2 linked regions of the Homo sapiens genome follow. The protein of the gene in region 2 interacts with the protein of the main gene of each other region in a biochemical or structural test. Each region holds a gene or a part of one and is shown on either strand. Other genes may lie near its edges.

What was found.
Region 1: the proteins of EPS8 (region 2) and DVL1 form a complex in vitro, tested with the Homo sapiens proteins (one study listed by BioGRID).

Annotation. Positions count from the first base shown.
Region 1 is NC_000001.11:1,346,398-1,354,194, forward strand, and holds the start of DVL1 (segment polarity protein dishevelled homolog DVL-1), read right to left. Parts: upstream 3,022-7,797; 5' UTR 2,669-3,021; coding exon 2,499-2,668; intron 1-2,498. Other genes in the region: MXRA8 (matrix remodeling-associated protein 8 isoform 1 precursor), read right to left, coding at 6,904-6,935, 7,451-7,549, 7,633-7,709, 7,796-7,797. UniProt on the Homo sapiens protein: Participates in Wnt signaling by binding to the cytoplasmic C-terminus of frizzled family members and transducing the Wnt signal to down-stream effectors. Plays a role both in canonical and non-canonical Wnt signaling.
Region 2 is NC_000012.12:15,660,374-15,667,394, forward strand, and holds part of EPS8 (epidermal growth factor receptor kinase substrate 8), read right to left. Parts: intron 6,150-7,021; coding exon 6,067-6,149; intron 5,520-6,066; coding exon 5,383-5,519; intron 4,734-5,382; coding exon of another isoform or gene 4,732-4,733; exon of another isoform or gene 4,421-4,731; intron 2,434-4,420; exon of another isoform or gene 1,963-2,433; intron 1,727-1,962; coding exon 1,653-1,726; intron 368-1,652; coding exon 241-367; intron 1-240. UniProt on the Homo sapiens protein: Signaling adapter that controls various cellular protrusions by regulating actin cytoskeleton dynamics and architecture. Depending on its association with other signal transducers, can regulate different processes.

The sequences.
Region 1 (7,797 bases), on a different chromosome or scaffold from region 2:
CCCAGCAGTGGGGACCCGGAGCCAAACACCCTCCCTCCTCTGCCTCGGCCCAAGGCTGGGCGAGACCCCCTGCCAACCACCAAACCCAGCACCAGGCAGAGACCCTCCCCAATTCTGCCCTCCTCCCAGCCCTGGGGATCTTGGGTCAGAATAGCTGTGACCAGGGCATGAAAAGTGGAGGACAGGCGGGGGACCTTCACCCACTGGGCCAAAGCCGTGCGTGGGGAGTGGGGTCCAGACCAGGGCACGTGGTTGTGGCCATGACACAGGCTCCCTGCACTGCAAGGTGGTCAGTCATGCTCTGGAGCAGAGGCTGGGGAACCAGGGCTGGGCTGAGAATGCAGCGGGGGCTGGCGCAGGAACCCCCGACTCACCAGGGCCTCCTCAGCGTCCCCAGCCTGAAGCTCCCTCTCTTATGAAGGCCACCCCAGACCAGCGAGGACCTGCCTTCTCTTCCCCCCATCTCCAACTACATTCGCTTGGCATCCAGGGTCAGTGTCTAGTTCAGCAGTCGCTTAAGCTAAAGTATTACTGACCAACCAGCCCCTCCCACGGGGGTTCTATTCCACAGAACAGACAGTGCTGAGAGGTCTGCGGGTAGAACTCAGGGGAAGGGATGAAGGAAGTAATTGATGAGGGTCCTCCGTAGGCTCCTGAGGCCACCAGCCAGAGGACCAGGGAGGACACAGAGCAAGGCCCCCATCCCAGCCAGAGGACCTGGGAGGCTACAGAGCAAGGCCCTCGTCTTGGACCTCCAGCATCACCCCAGTCCATTCTTTCCAACCCCCACAGCCCAGCCCAGCCCAGCCCTGACCTCTGCAGCCCCACTGACTCCCAGCCCCCTGTAAGTCTGCAGCCTCCAAAGCTGTACACTGAAGCTCCCCTGTCTCTTTCCTGGCCGCATCCCCAAGCCTGCCTCGACACCCAGACCTGCCCACCCTGTTCCCAGGCCCGGGCACCCACGCGTCCTCCAAATGTGCCCAGCAGGTGCAGCCACTGCTAGAAGTGCACTAGGGCAACAGTCAGGCTGTCTCTGCCCTGGGCAGCCCCCGGTGGGTGTCAGGAGCAGAAGGCGGACTCCCCCAGGGCTTCATCCCAGAGCATGGTCCAGGAGCAGAACCTGGGGGCTGGGCACCTCCTCACTACGCATTTCCTGGTGGCACACATTTGCAACAAACAGCATTAGTAACTTTGGTAACTTTCGTTAGAATAATAAACTAAGTCAAAAACAAAAGTACCTGACACATGCCCCATGCTCAAGGCCAAAGCAGCCCAGGCCCAGAGAAGCAGGGACTGCAAGGTGCCCCAGCTGGGGAGGAGCCCGGACCAGACTCAGAAAACAAACCGCCCCCTCCTGCCCAACCTGACCGGAGCGGGCAGGAGGGCCGCTGAGCCGAGTGGGGAGCGCCCAGCCTTCAAAGGCTGCCAAGGACGCACCCTGCCCTCTCTGCTTTGCCTGGTCGTGGGGGTGGGGAAGGAAAGTACAGCTGTCTAGATGTCCCTTGGGCCCCCCTGAGAGCTCCAGAGCGGACCCAGCCTGACTGGACCTGGGGCTGCCTGAGGACCCTGCAACCACAGAATCCAAGAAACAACCTTAATGTCACAATCCCAAGAAGCGGCCACACACAAGGACACCGCTTGCCGGAGGCTCACCTCCTGGGGCCACGAGGCCTGAGCCCGCCCCCAGCACTGTTGAGCTGGGACTAGGGACTCAGGTTACTGGTGGCTGGGCCGGGCCAGGCCAGGCCTCAAGCAGACCGCCAGGCTCCTGCTCCCTGTCCCAGAGGGCCCAGCTCAGCACAGCAGGGGTCTCCTCGCCTGGGACACCACCACCGAGGCCCAGCAGGGAGACGCTGACCCAGGCTGCCCCGAAACAGCAGATGGTCTGGGCTGCTCCGGGAACGCAAGTGCTTTGTGGCTCAGTGGGGACGGGGCCCACAGGAAGCTCAGGACACGGGTAGGCGAATAAAGTTTCATGGTCACCAGTGGCCCTTGACCTCCACCCTGTCACAAGGACCCTGCAGAAGGGGGCCAGGAGAACCTGTCTTGACCCTCGGGAAGCTTCTGCAAACCCTAGCAGACAGGTTGGTGAACCTGTACCCCCATGTCTCCCCATCCCAGCTAGGGAACCCCACCCTGCTTCCTTCCCACTGACACGCCCCTGACCCCAGCCCGCACCAACGGCAGGCGCTCCCGGCCAGCCCCGGTGGAAGCGATGCGGCCGACCGAGTCTGACACGGGCCAAGGCAGGACTCGGGGCCGGGAAGCTGGGGCCAGGGACGCCGGGAACCCCGCCTGCCATCGCCCCGCTCCACGGACAGGTGGGCGCGCGCCGCACACGGGCCGAGGCCGCCACCCGCGCCGCATCTAGCGGAGGCGCGTCGCGGTCGCAGGTCCCCGGGGGCGCGAACGGCTCAGGACCCCCGCCCCGTCCCCGCGCGGGCAGGTGCGACCCCCGAGCCCGCGCCAGGCTCGCGCAGGCCTCGCGGCCGACTGACCCGAAGTCCTGGTCCATGGACTTAAAGAAGAATTTGTAGGCGTGCACGGGCCGGTTGCTGAGCACGTTCTTGAAGTCGGCCAGCGTGACGCGCTCGGGGGCCACGGGCAGCTTGACCAGGTACGGCGTCTCCTCCTCGTCCATGTGGTAGATAATCTTGGTCTCCGCCATGGCGCGGCGGCGGCGCGGAGCCCGCGCGCTCAGGGCCCGGCCCGGGGCTCGGACGCGGGGCGCTACCCGCCCGCCCGCCTGCGCCCCGCCCGGCCCGCACCGCTCTCGGCCCCGACGCTCCGAGGCCCCCGGGCGCCCCCGCCCGACCGCCCAGGCCCCGGCCGCCGCCCCCGGCTCCCGCGCGCGTCCCGACTGCTGCCCCGCGGCCCGCGGCCGCCCATCCGCCCCCGGCCCGGGAGCGGCGCGAGGGACGCAGCACGGAGGGCGCGCTCAGCCCCGCCGCCCTCCCGCCTGCGCCCCTCGGGCCGCGCCGTTAAAGGGACCGCCCGGCCCGGGGTCCTGAGCGTGGCCGCGGGGGGGCGCCCGAGCGCGCGGCGTTGACGTCACGGGGGCGCACGGCGGGGGCGGGGCGAGGATGCGCAGACGCAGGCGATCATCGCTCGCCCCGCCCCGCCCCGGCCCCGCCCCCGCGCGCGGGCCCGCGCTCCATTATGATCCGGCGCATGCGACGCGCGCCGCTGGCTGTGGGCCCGTGGGCGCCGGGGCGCTCGGGTCGGGCGGAGGGACCCCGGGGACGCCGGGTGCGCGGCGCTGAGGTGGCGCCCGGTCGCTCTGCGCCACCGCGAAGGCTCCCGACTCGCGTGCCCTCTGCCGGGTCCCACGGGGTCCAGGCAGCAGGCCGAGCGGATGCGGGGCGCGCGGGGGCGCGGGCGTGCACGGAGGCGTCGGAGCGCCCGGCGGCGGGAGGGATTTAGTCCTGGGGTTCTCCGCAGGGCAGGGGAGACTTCCGAGGCGTCCCTTGAGGCCGCGGGGCGTCCGCGCTTACTGTTCCGGGGCTCGCGGGGCTGGAGGCCTTCCCGACCCGACCCCAGCAGGAAGCGCGGAGGCCACTAGAGGGCGGCCCAGGATGGGAGGAGTGAGGAGGGGGCCTGGACGGGGCAGGAGCGACGGGGGGAGTGAGGAGGGGGCCTGGACGGGGCAGGAGCGACGGGGGGAGTGAGGAGGGGGCCTGGACGGGGCAGGAGCGACGGGGGGAGTGAGGAGGGGGCCTGGACGGGGCAGGAGCGACGGGGGGAGTGAGGAGGGGGCCTGGACGGGGCAGGAGCGACGGGGGGAGTGAGGAGGGGGCCTGGACGGGGCAGGAGCGACGGGGGGAGTGAGGAGGGGGCCTGGACGGGGCAGGAGCGACGGGGGGAGTGAGGAGGGGGCCTGGACGGGGCAGGAGCGACGGGGGGAGTGAGGAGGGGGCCTGGACGGGGCAGGAGCGACGGGGGGAGTGAGGAGGGGGCCTGGACGGGGCTGGAGCGACGGGGGGAGTGAGGAGGGGGCCTGGACCGGGCAGGAGCGACGGGGGGAGTGAGGAGGGGGCCTGGACCGGGCAGGAGCGACGGGGGGAGTGAGGAGGGGGCCTGGACGGGGCAGGAGCGACGGGGGGAGTGAGGAGGGGGCCTGGACGGGGCAGGAGCGACGGGGGGAGTGAGGAGGGGGCCTGGACGGGGCAGGAGCGACGGGGGGAGTGAGGAGGGGGCCTGGACGGGGCAGGAGCGACGGGGGGAGTGAGGAGGGGGCCTGGACGGGGCAGGAGCGACGGGGGGAGTGAGGAGGGGGCCTGGACGGGGCAGGAGCGACGGGGGGAGTGAGGAGGGGGCCTGGACGGGGCAGGAGCGACGGGGGGAGTGAGGAGGGGGCCTGGACGGGGCAGGAGCGACGGGGGGAGTGAGGAGGGGGCCTGGACCGGGCAGGAGCGACGGGGGGAGTGAGGAGGGGGCCTGGACGGGGCAGGAGCGACGGGGGGAGTGAGGAGGGGGCCTGGACGGGGCAGGAGCGACGGGGGGAGTGAGGAGGGGGCCTGGACGGGGCAGGAGCGACGGGGGGAGTGAGGAGGGGGCCTGGACGGGGCAGGAGCGACGGGGGGAGTGAGGAGGGGGCCTGGACCGGGCAGGAGCGACGGGGGGAGTGAGGAGGGGGCCTGGACCGGGCAGGAGCGACGGGGGGAGTGAGGAGGGGGCCTGGACGGGGCAGGAGCGACGGGGGGAGTGAGGAGGGGGCCTGGACGGGGCAGGAGCGACGGGGGGAGTGAGGAGGGGGCCTGGACGGGGCTGGAGCGACGGGGGGAGTGAGGAGGGGGCCTGGACGGGGCAGGAGCGACGGGGGGAGTGAGGAGGGGGCCTGGACGGGGCAGGAGCGACGGGGGGAGTGAGGAGGGGGCCTGGACCGGGCAGGAGCGACGGGGGGAGTGAGGAGGGGGCCTGGACGGGGCAGGAGCGACGGGGGGAGTGAGGAGGGGGCCTGGACGGGGCAGGAGCGACGGGGGGAGTGAGGAGGGGGCCTGGACGGGGCAGGAGCGACGGGGGGAGTGAGGAGGGGGCCTGGACGGGGCTGGAGCGATGGGGAAGAGAGTGCGGTGGGGTCCCTTGGTTCCCGTCCCCAGGAAGCCGGCGAGATGGAACTGGCATCTATCGGGCCCTGACCGTGCTGGGGGCTGCACCGGCTCGGAAAGAAACCGATCAGTGCAGGCACCAGTGCTTGACGGTCAGCTTGGGCCTGGGATCCTGACCCTGCACCCGGGCTCTGAGAGGGAGAACTGTGGCGTTTGCTCAGCCAAGCCCGGACAGCTTAGCCGCCAGCCCCCTCCACCTTCCCGCAGCCCTTCTCTTCCCCAGAGGTCAGAAGCCAGGCAGGAAGACCTAAGAGGGGCTATCTGTTGAGGCCCCAGGGAGGGAGGAAGCCTGTCCCTGCCCTGAGGGCCTGACCCCAGGCTAGGTCTCAAGAGAGGCTGGAAGCCAGAGGCCTGAGGCCAGTCCCGTTGCTGACGCGGATGTGGTCCAGCTGGGGCCCTGACAGGTGTGGCCACTGGTGAGGCCAGAGGTAACCGGGCTGGGAGGGGGGTGCATCTTCAAGCCACACCTCCCCAGACCAGCCTCCCTCCCTCCCCATCCATGCTTGTGTGGGGTCCTTGTGGGCAACTGTCACCCTTTCCCACCCCCACTGTCCTGGGAGGACTGGAGGATGGGGTTGGGTGGTGACGCCAGCTTCAAGAAGCAGCAGTTAGTCGCTGGTCTGTGCTGCCAGGACCCCGGGCCACGGGCCTTCCTGCTCCCGCCACTCCTCCCACCGCCTGAACTTGTGCTGAGATCCTGCACCCAACCAGCTGATGCCTGAGCGGGAAAGGATTCTAGGGCCAGATCCGTGCTGGCCTGGCCAAGACTCTTGGAACCACCCTGCTGTCCCGGGCTGTCTCTGCTGGAGCCTCTTTGCTCCCGCCCCCTTTGCAAGTGTCTGACCCGCATCCCACTACTCCCGCTCCTCGTCCCTCTGCCTCTCCAAGAGCTGTGCTCCCACGGCCTTCCCTCTGGCCTCACAGCCACCACCACGTCCCCCCTCCTCACGTCCAGGTCAGCCCTCAAGGGAATCTGAACTCCTCCACGACCAGAAGCCACACAGAACTAGCTCAAAGGTCCCCTTCCCAGGACACCGACTCCCAGAGGACCCAGACCCAGACCTTTCAGCCCAAGGAATGGGATGATGTCAGGGGTTCCAGGTGGAGACGAGGACTCCCAGGCCCAGACTCATGCCTTGCCCAGCCCCAGGAGACGGAGTTTCAGAAGCATACCTGGGACAAGTCTAAAAATCAGATGGGGACTTTATTGTGATGGTGGCAGGTCCACCAGCAGATGCAAATGTGGGGTGCTGAGAGTGGCAACACAGGCCACCCCAAACCAACTTCACTCCCTCCCCTGTCCTCAGCCAGTACAGAAGCCAAATGTAGCCCCAGCCCTAGACTCCAGCCCAGGCAGAGTCCAAGGGAGGGGTGTCAGGGTCAGAAGTCACAGGGAGCCCAGTGACTATCAAGGTGGCTGAGAGCAAGGCTAGGGTAGGGATGGGGCAGAGAAAGGGCAAGGGGTGCAGCCCCAGGTGGCCCAAAGCAACACAGAGGAGCAAGGGCTGGCATTCAAGTCAGCAGGTCCCTGGGGAGAACAGATGGTGCCTGGAGTCCCACATGGTGGTACAGGTGGGGGAGCTCTCGGTGGCAGGCAGCACCCCAGGAGGAGTGGGACTCCTGCCGAGGCTGACCCCAACTTCAAGGCTGCCAAGTTCTGATGGGAGTGTCCTCCTCCAGGAACATCTCCCAGCCCCCGACGAGCAGAGCCCTGGAGGAGTGGGACTCCTGCCCTGAGGCTGACCCCAGTTTTGGGGCTGCCAGGTTCTGATGGGAGTGTCCTCCAGGAATGTCTTCAGGCCCCCAGCGGGCAGAGCCCAGAAGGGTCTGAGGGCATGATGGGCATCAGTGGGATTTTGGTTGTGCCAGGGGTGGGCAGGGCCACCCGTGAGCAAAGGCCGCAGGGGTGGGGGCTATGCTGCCACCAAGCCCCTGGGAGAGGGGTGTGGAGGCGGCCTCTGCATACGCCCAGGCCAAATTCCAGGAAAGCGGGACCAGCCGCTGGAAGGGGGGTGAGCCCCGGAGCATCAGGAGATGCCCCGAGGAGCACAGACAGGAGAGGTGCAGCTGCTGGCCCAGCCAGGAGCCCAGGGCCTCCCTATTTGCAGTTCTCCTTCCGGAACCCTGGAAGCCAAGGGCGCCAACGGGTTGGCGGCTGTCCTCCACCCTCATCACAGTGGGAGACACAGGGCAGACCCCCCCGCAGGACTCCCCAGGGATTTCTGAGCCTGAGGTGGCAGGGGCCCCGGGCCTGGCTGGTGCCTGCCATCGTTGGTCCCAGGTGAGGTGGAATGGGGACAGGCAGGGCTCTGAGATGGGCTGAGGTCGCCCCCGCCGCTCACCTTTGTCTAGGTCGATGTACTTGGCAGGCAGGGGGCTGTGGGCCAGCTCCGCCCTCTCCTTCAGGATGTTGTTTTTGTAATCTGTGGGAGGAGAGGAGGCTGAGGTCCCCGCTCCCAGGATGCACTTCCCAGCCCGGGACTGGGAGCCGCGCCTGTGCCCTCGTGTCCCAGCACTGCCTCACCTAGCTGGATGTCCTCACTCCTGTAAAGCATCTGGTCCCCTGCAGCCACAGCGAACTCCGCCAAGTTAACATCCTTCCTGGATGGCGAGGGTGGGAGGAGGTTACAGCTGGGTGGGGTGAAGGGGGCCCTGGTCCCCAGGAGGGCCGGGAGGGGGGCACTCACCC
Region 2 (7,021 bases):
CTGTCTCAGCCTCCCAAGTAGCTGGGATTACAGGCACATGCCACCATGCCCGGCTAATTTTTGTATTTTTAGTAGAGACGGGGTTTCATCACATTGGTCAGGCTAGTCTCGAACTCCTGACCTTAGATGATACACCCGCCTCGGCCTCCCAAAGTGCTGGGATTACAGGTGTGAGCCACTGCGCCCAGCCAGTACTGGAGATCTAACCAGGCATTAGAAGATTAAGAAAATCCAACTTACCTCCTGGTCCTTTCCTTTTACCTTTCTTGTTTTTCTTCCTTTTAGAAAGCTCAGAAAATGCTTCTGCTGCTTTTTGGAGTTTTGTGATAAAAAATTCAATGTCATCCAAAATGTGGTTTAAGATTTGCTGAAATTAGAAATTATAGAATAAAATATAAAACAAAACTATTTTTACCTTAGCTGTACTCTGTTAGTAAATAATAGAAAGGTTTTTTTAGAAAAGGAAGCAGCCCACATGCCAATTTCAAGTTTATTACTAATTACAAGAATCAAACTAAATATACCTATAGCCATATTCTGACATTTACATTTTTCTTTAGCTTACTTTTGCTCTATTTTCAATGTCATCAAGGAAGCATTCACAATATCTGCTCAGATTATTATTTTCAATTACTCTAATTTTCTCAGTGTTCTCCCACACAGTTAGGAGGAAAATTCTAAAATAGGTTTTGTTAGAAGAGCACTGACATTTTTGCTTTACTGATAAATGTCCCAATAAAGCACTGACAATATTACTTCATGGAATTAAAGGTATACAGATTGTTGTGATAACCTAATAGCTAGTCTAGGATACTAAGCATTAATAAGAGTTTCCACATGACAAAATAGAATAATGCACCATGCTTTCAGAGATCACTGGAATGAATTTGATTATCTTATATACTATAGTCTTAGTTGCCTTTCTCCAGTATGTGTGAAACTTGACATTCTTCTAATTTAAGACTACAAATTGGGGTTAAACTTTTAAGTATAACATGTAATAGTGTGCTGTAAAAATTGAATTAGAAATTTCAAATTCCTTTCAGTATTTGTTTCTCAATAAGCTGGTAACATGTATATGGTATAAAAAGTAATGTATTAACATCATATTCTAGATCTCATTTAAAGAATGAAAATGCTATAATAAAGCATTTACAGCATTCTCATTCTGTAAATCACTATAAAGAAAACAAATGTAGCATTATCTTTTATAAAAGCTTTACGATTTACAAATCTATCCTTTAAAAATGCCACTTAACTTTTATCTCTTAGGTATTCTAAAATACATTGTTAATAAATGCCAAGAAGACATATTAAAAAGATATTTCAATTATGAATTACAAACGATAATAAAATAAAAATTGTACCATTCCTGAAATCTAATAATTCAGCCTAAGTTCCAATGTAAACTAGTTAATAAGCTGATTCTTCTATCATAGCCCAAGTCTACTAACTAAATATTGGCATAAAGGCAAAAATGTTTAACGAGAAAATAATTCAAAGGGCAAATTCAAAGGGCATAGCCATCACAGGTAACAGAAAACATGGTTTCCATAAAATATCTCTATTTAAATCAGCTTCATTTTCTTATGAAGTTTTCTTTTTCCTCTTAAAAGAAAAGCCAGTGATCTAAAGGCGACTCCTGTACTTACCACATCTCTGTCAATGCGGGCTGCCATCATCTCAGGTGTTTCTTCCTGCTCATGATACTGCCTTGGTTTCTCAACTATAGAAAGGACAATCATAAGTCTTTCAATCTTTTACTCCCACAATACCAATACAGACAATTAAAACATAAAAATTAGTTAAAAAGGAGGACCATTTGCCAAAGGGAACACCTCCACTGGATACACAAGTCAAAACTGTGCTCATCAGCCATGAAATGCATCCTTGTCAATACTAACAGGAGCAGTTGAGCAGAGCTTAAGTATTAGTCCTCTCAACTTTATGATGTTAATTTACCTTGTAATATCACCCCATTCTCTCTCTTCCCTGAGTCAGCTACCTGTAGAACCAACCTTAACTTAGCACCCTTTAATTCCTACACAAGCCAGAAATATAAACCAGCAGTCAAGCTTTTACTTCTCAAAAGCTGGTCAACTAAGTTCTAATGCAACAGAGCTATAATTTTTATACATTCCAACACTGTGACTACAATAAAGCTTTCGGAGTTCTGACAGCAGAGTGCTTCTTAAAATTCTAGTGTAATTAAGCTTAAAACCCACAATGTTGGGCTCATTAATTTTAAGCTACATGCTTTAAAAGCAGACAGAAATTTTCACATTAAAAAATAAATGTCTTAAGACCATTCAGGGTATTAAGGTTGCTCAGTTGGCTACAGCATGATGTTAATCATGAAGTTATTATCATGAACTCCTTCCTGGTATGAGTCAGTTAATACTGCCTCTAAACACAGAGAGTTGTTACAGATATCTCATGGTAGAATAAATTTCAAAATATATGGATGGAACAACAGAAACGTAACACCACAAATGGAAATACAACTCATGATACATCATCGTGACTCATGATGTTCAATAGAGAGAACTGCAAAAAAAAATTGGACACTTTGTATTGCTATTCTTCCTTTACACTAACTTTACCTGTAACTGGAACACTTGCCAACAAAAAAAAAAAAAAAAAGAAAGAAGAAATCATCGTGTCTTATGAAACTTAATTAGCGGCTGTTAACTACTTTAAGATAATTAAAATTTCTATCTATGAAATCTTGCCAGTTAGCTACTATTTTACACATAGATAGCTGCTACCTTGGTTGTAGTGGACTACCACAGAAAGTACTAAGTTGAGGTTGAAATAGCTATTAGGAACTCTACAGAGGCCCCAAAAAATATCATTTGGAGGGCACAGTGAGGGGGAGATATGGTATTTCTTGGGCTCTGTCAGGTCTGAAACACGACTAGGAACCCTAGTGCCACTGGCGCTATTCCACAGAGATCACCTTTGGAAGTCAGGGGTAGATATGCCTCAGGGATTCAACGGAGAAGCAGTTCAGCCTGAGTCAGCTGGAGCATCCAGAGGAACCAAAAAGATATTCCTCCTGAGGGGCTTTCCAACTAAAAACTGGACTGGACCCAGGCCAAACCTGATATAATAAGTCTTCTGTTTAGGCTAGTGGTAAATTAGAAGTTCTGAAAGCCTTATCTCACTTAAACAGATGACATTGCAGAAAATATTTCAGATAAAATTTAATGAAAGCTCAGAAACCCCTAGGGATAAATTCTGTCTTTGTTATAAATTATATTAGGTTCAGCAGGGCATGGTGGCTCACGCCTGTAATTCCAGCACTTTCAGAGGCTGAGGCGGGAGGATCACGAGGTCAGGAGATCAAGACAATCCTGGCTAACACAGTGAAACTCCATCTCTACTAAAAATACAAAATTAGCCAGGTATGGTGGCACACGCCTGTAATCCCAGCTACTTGGGAGGCTGAGGCAGGAGAATCGCTTGAACCAGGAGACAAAGGTTGCAGTAAGCTGAGATCGCACCACTGCACTCCAGCCTGGGTGACAGAGCAACACTCCATCTCAAAAAAAAAAAAAAAAAAAAAAAAAATAATATATATATATATATATATATATATATACACACACACATATATATATGGTTCAACATATAATATACATAATATATATTATATATATTAGGTTCAACATATATTTTTACAGGTTTGTTCAGAATGTCTGTAAACTTGTCTTATCCTTCCTCTACTTCAGACCCTCTTCATCGAAACAGTAACAACAAAAACACCATAAGTACACAAAAAGTATAGAATACAATAAATTACTGTCTTTTAAACACATTTTAAATACAAAGCAGATCAATACAAATTTACATAACTTATGAAAACGGAAACTGTTATAAAATTAAACTACATATCTCTGTTAATTAATTTTTTTTTAAATAAATGCATCAAAGAATTCTTTTTTTCATATCTTTGGTAGCTCGGCTTACATTTCAACCTCTGAAAAAACCTTTAAGAATACAAGAAACCTAAACAAAATAGAAAACAATTCAGAAAGAAAATGAACTCAATTTGGCAAAATGAAAACCACAAATTATGCTTACTATTTTGTAGTAGGTACTACCATAAACATTATTTACTTTCAGATTCAGAGCAACCCATGAATTATTATCCCCATTTCAGAGATGAGACCGAAGTACAGAGAGATAACTTCCCAAGACCACACAGGTAGACATATCAGGTCTTGCTTCAGAGTCCAACTTTTACTCTGCACATCCAAAGTAGAGTCCGAGGTGACTCATTTTTGGAAATGAGTTATATCGTTTAACTATAGTGCCAGATACCCTGTGTGAATAATACTTTACTGGATAAAGAATAAGAAGTTAAGAAGTTCCACTGGAGTAGCGGCAAAAGAATGAGGCTCTAGAGTTCATCAGATTGGAGCCTGCTGAATCACAATTTATTCGTCCTTAAAATGAAGATACTAGACCAAACATATTTTAAGGCATTTTTTTAGTTATAAACATTTCAGATTCTAGTAAAATATTCTAACATATAAAAAGTAACACTAAGTTCTATGTTATAATTGTTTTTAAACAGAATGCCAAGGTGAAATGATGCCACGCTCATAGGGCCCACTTGACAAGAACAGTCATATGATGGATACCTTTTACCCTTCTCCACTGCCAGCAGCCAACCACTGTCCTGACAACCTTTCCATGAATATGACAAACTTGTCCAAAAAGGGACTCTAGTTAGATAATAAAAAATGGAAAGAATGTTAAGTGCAATCTTTAAGAAAAACCTGTATATATTTTGTTGCCATCTTTTTGTCAATCAAGTAAAACTTCCTCTTAGCATTAAAAAAATAAAAAGACTCTAACCCTAATACCATATTTATTAAATGGTGGGTCTAAACTCTTACAGATAATAATCTTAACAAAATTCAAGGCTTAACTTTATTTTATCTAAGATTTGATTTTTTTTTTTTTTGAAATGGAGTTTTGGTCTTGTTGTCCAGGCTGGGGTGCAATGGCGTGATCTCAGCTTACTGCAACCTCCGCCTCCCGGTTCAAGTGATTCTCCTGTCTCAACCATCCCAGTAGCTAGGATTATAGGCGCATGCCACCACACCCACCTAATTTTTGTATTTTTAATAGAGACGGGGTTTCATCATATTGGTCATGCTGGTCTCAAACTCCTGACCTCAGGTGATCCGCCCGCCTCGGCCTCCCAAAGCACTGGGATTACAGGCATGAGCCACTGCGCCCGGCCAGAGTTGATTTTTTAAAAACTAACCTCAAGCTTCAGTTCTGAAATCAGCATCAGAATTTGAAAGCAAGAACTATGTCCCAACCCAAAGTAAGTGTTCAATAAGTATTAATTCTAGGAAGACTCACAGTCCCCTTGGTCGGCTGCCCATGCAGACCAGGCTGCCACTCGACTTCTAACATCCACCTGGGTGACGGTCCCAGGGGGCGCAGGGGCAGGAGCTCTGGGTGGAGGCGGTATACTAGGGTCTGCATTGGAAATCATCCTTAAAAAGATGAAAACAAATAGAATTTTTACCATCTCTATTTCTATAACATATCAATTAACTCAACTTGTGGTACTAGTTATTAAAATTCAAAAAGAACTATGTCAAGGGACAATAAGGATTTCCTAAGCATTACACATTATGCATATTTATGAATGCATATGAAATAAAAAAATTAATAGTCAGCTGAAAACTAGGTTGATTTTCCTTCTGAGTCTTATGTGATTTGAAAGGGCCATGGAACAATTACAATCCTACTGTCTAGCTTGTATTTCCCTAGGATACCTTCTCTTAAAATGCCACTCATCTTTCATGACTCTGTGACTTCCAACACAAGTGAAGCCATATCAGAGAAAGACCAAAAATATGGAGAGAAGAGGAGTAAACACACTGACAAACTTGGGAGAACAAATGTGTTGAGACTACAGGTTATGATCTATACAATACAATAATATACTTCCATAGAAAATAATTTTTCTAACTCTTTGGGGAAAAAAGCCTTAGAAACAAATCAATTCCACTCCTTGATTTCTTTCAATGCTTTTACCTCAGGGCGTCGGGCCGCCTCTTCTGTTTCCCTCCTTTACTGTCACTGATTGCACTTTCAATATCTTCACTAATTAGGTTTGCCTGCAAAGAGACACAAGTTACCTGAAAGTTTATGGATTTTTCTGAGTCTTGATATGTAGTTTAAAACAGAAAAAGGGATTGTTCCTTGTCTGAATCAGTAAGTATCTTGATGTAAAAAGTCTTTTTATAAAAATCTTGCAAAACATGACTCTTGTGGTTTTTATAATGGTGAACTATATAATGATAAGATTTTAAAAACTGAAGAAATTTTTAATGATTATCTTAAAGGGAAACTATCCTTGAATAAAGGCAATGATAGAAAGGATATGTACACGCTAAAAATGAAACTGAGTAAAAATCTCTAATTGGGTAGAAATTAAGGGGTTAGAGGCTCCCACACATAGAACAGAGTTCCTTCCCTTTCTCATCCTCAAGATCCACTGGACACCCATTAACCCAGCAAAACAAATCTTTGAGTTTAAGGCAAATCTACTACACCCATAAGATAAACTCCAACGCTAGGTTTTACCCCTTTGGGTAACCACTTTATTTTGTCACTTCAGGTAAAAGTTAACTTTCTGCAAACAATTAACTTTTCCACTACTTTTCCAGAACATTCAGTTAGATTTTTCTTGGGGAGCAACGTGAGATTAGCAGATACGAAGTTTCTGTTTGGTTGCAAAGTTTGTTTAGAGCCAGTGATCATTACTCTATATTAGAATGTTGATGAGATGCACCATCTATGTTTGGGCCTCCCTGTTCTCTGTAATGTTTTCTCAAATATGTATGTTGTATTTCTTTTACAGTAAGCATCGATAATCATAAAACTTTAGAAATGATGGGATATTTAAAAGAGCATCTCATCAGTTCCTTCTAATTAATAAAACTGAGGAGTACTTGTATAAAAGGGCCTGGCCAAGGTCACATTGCTA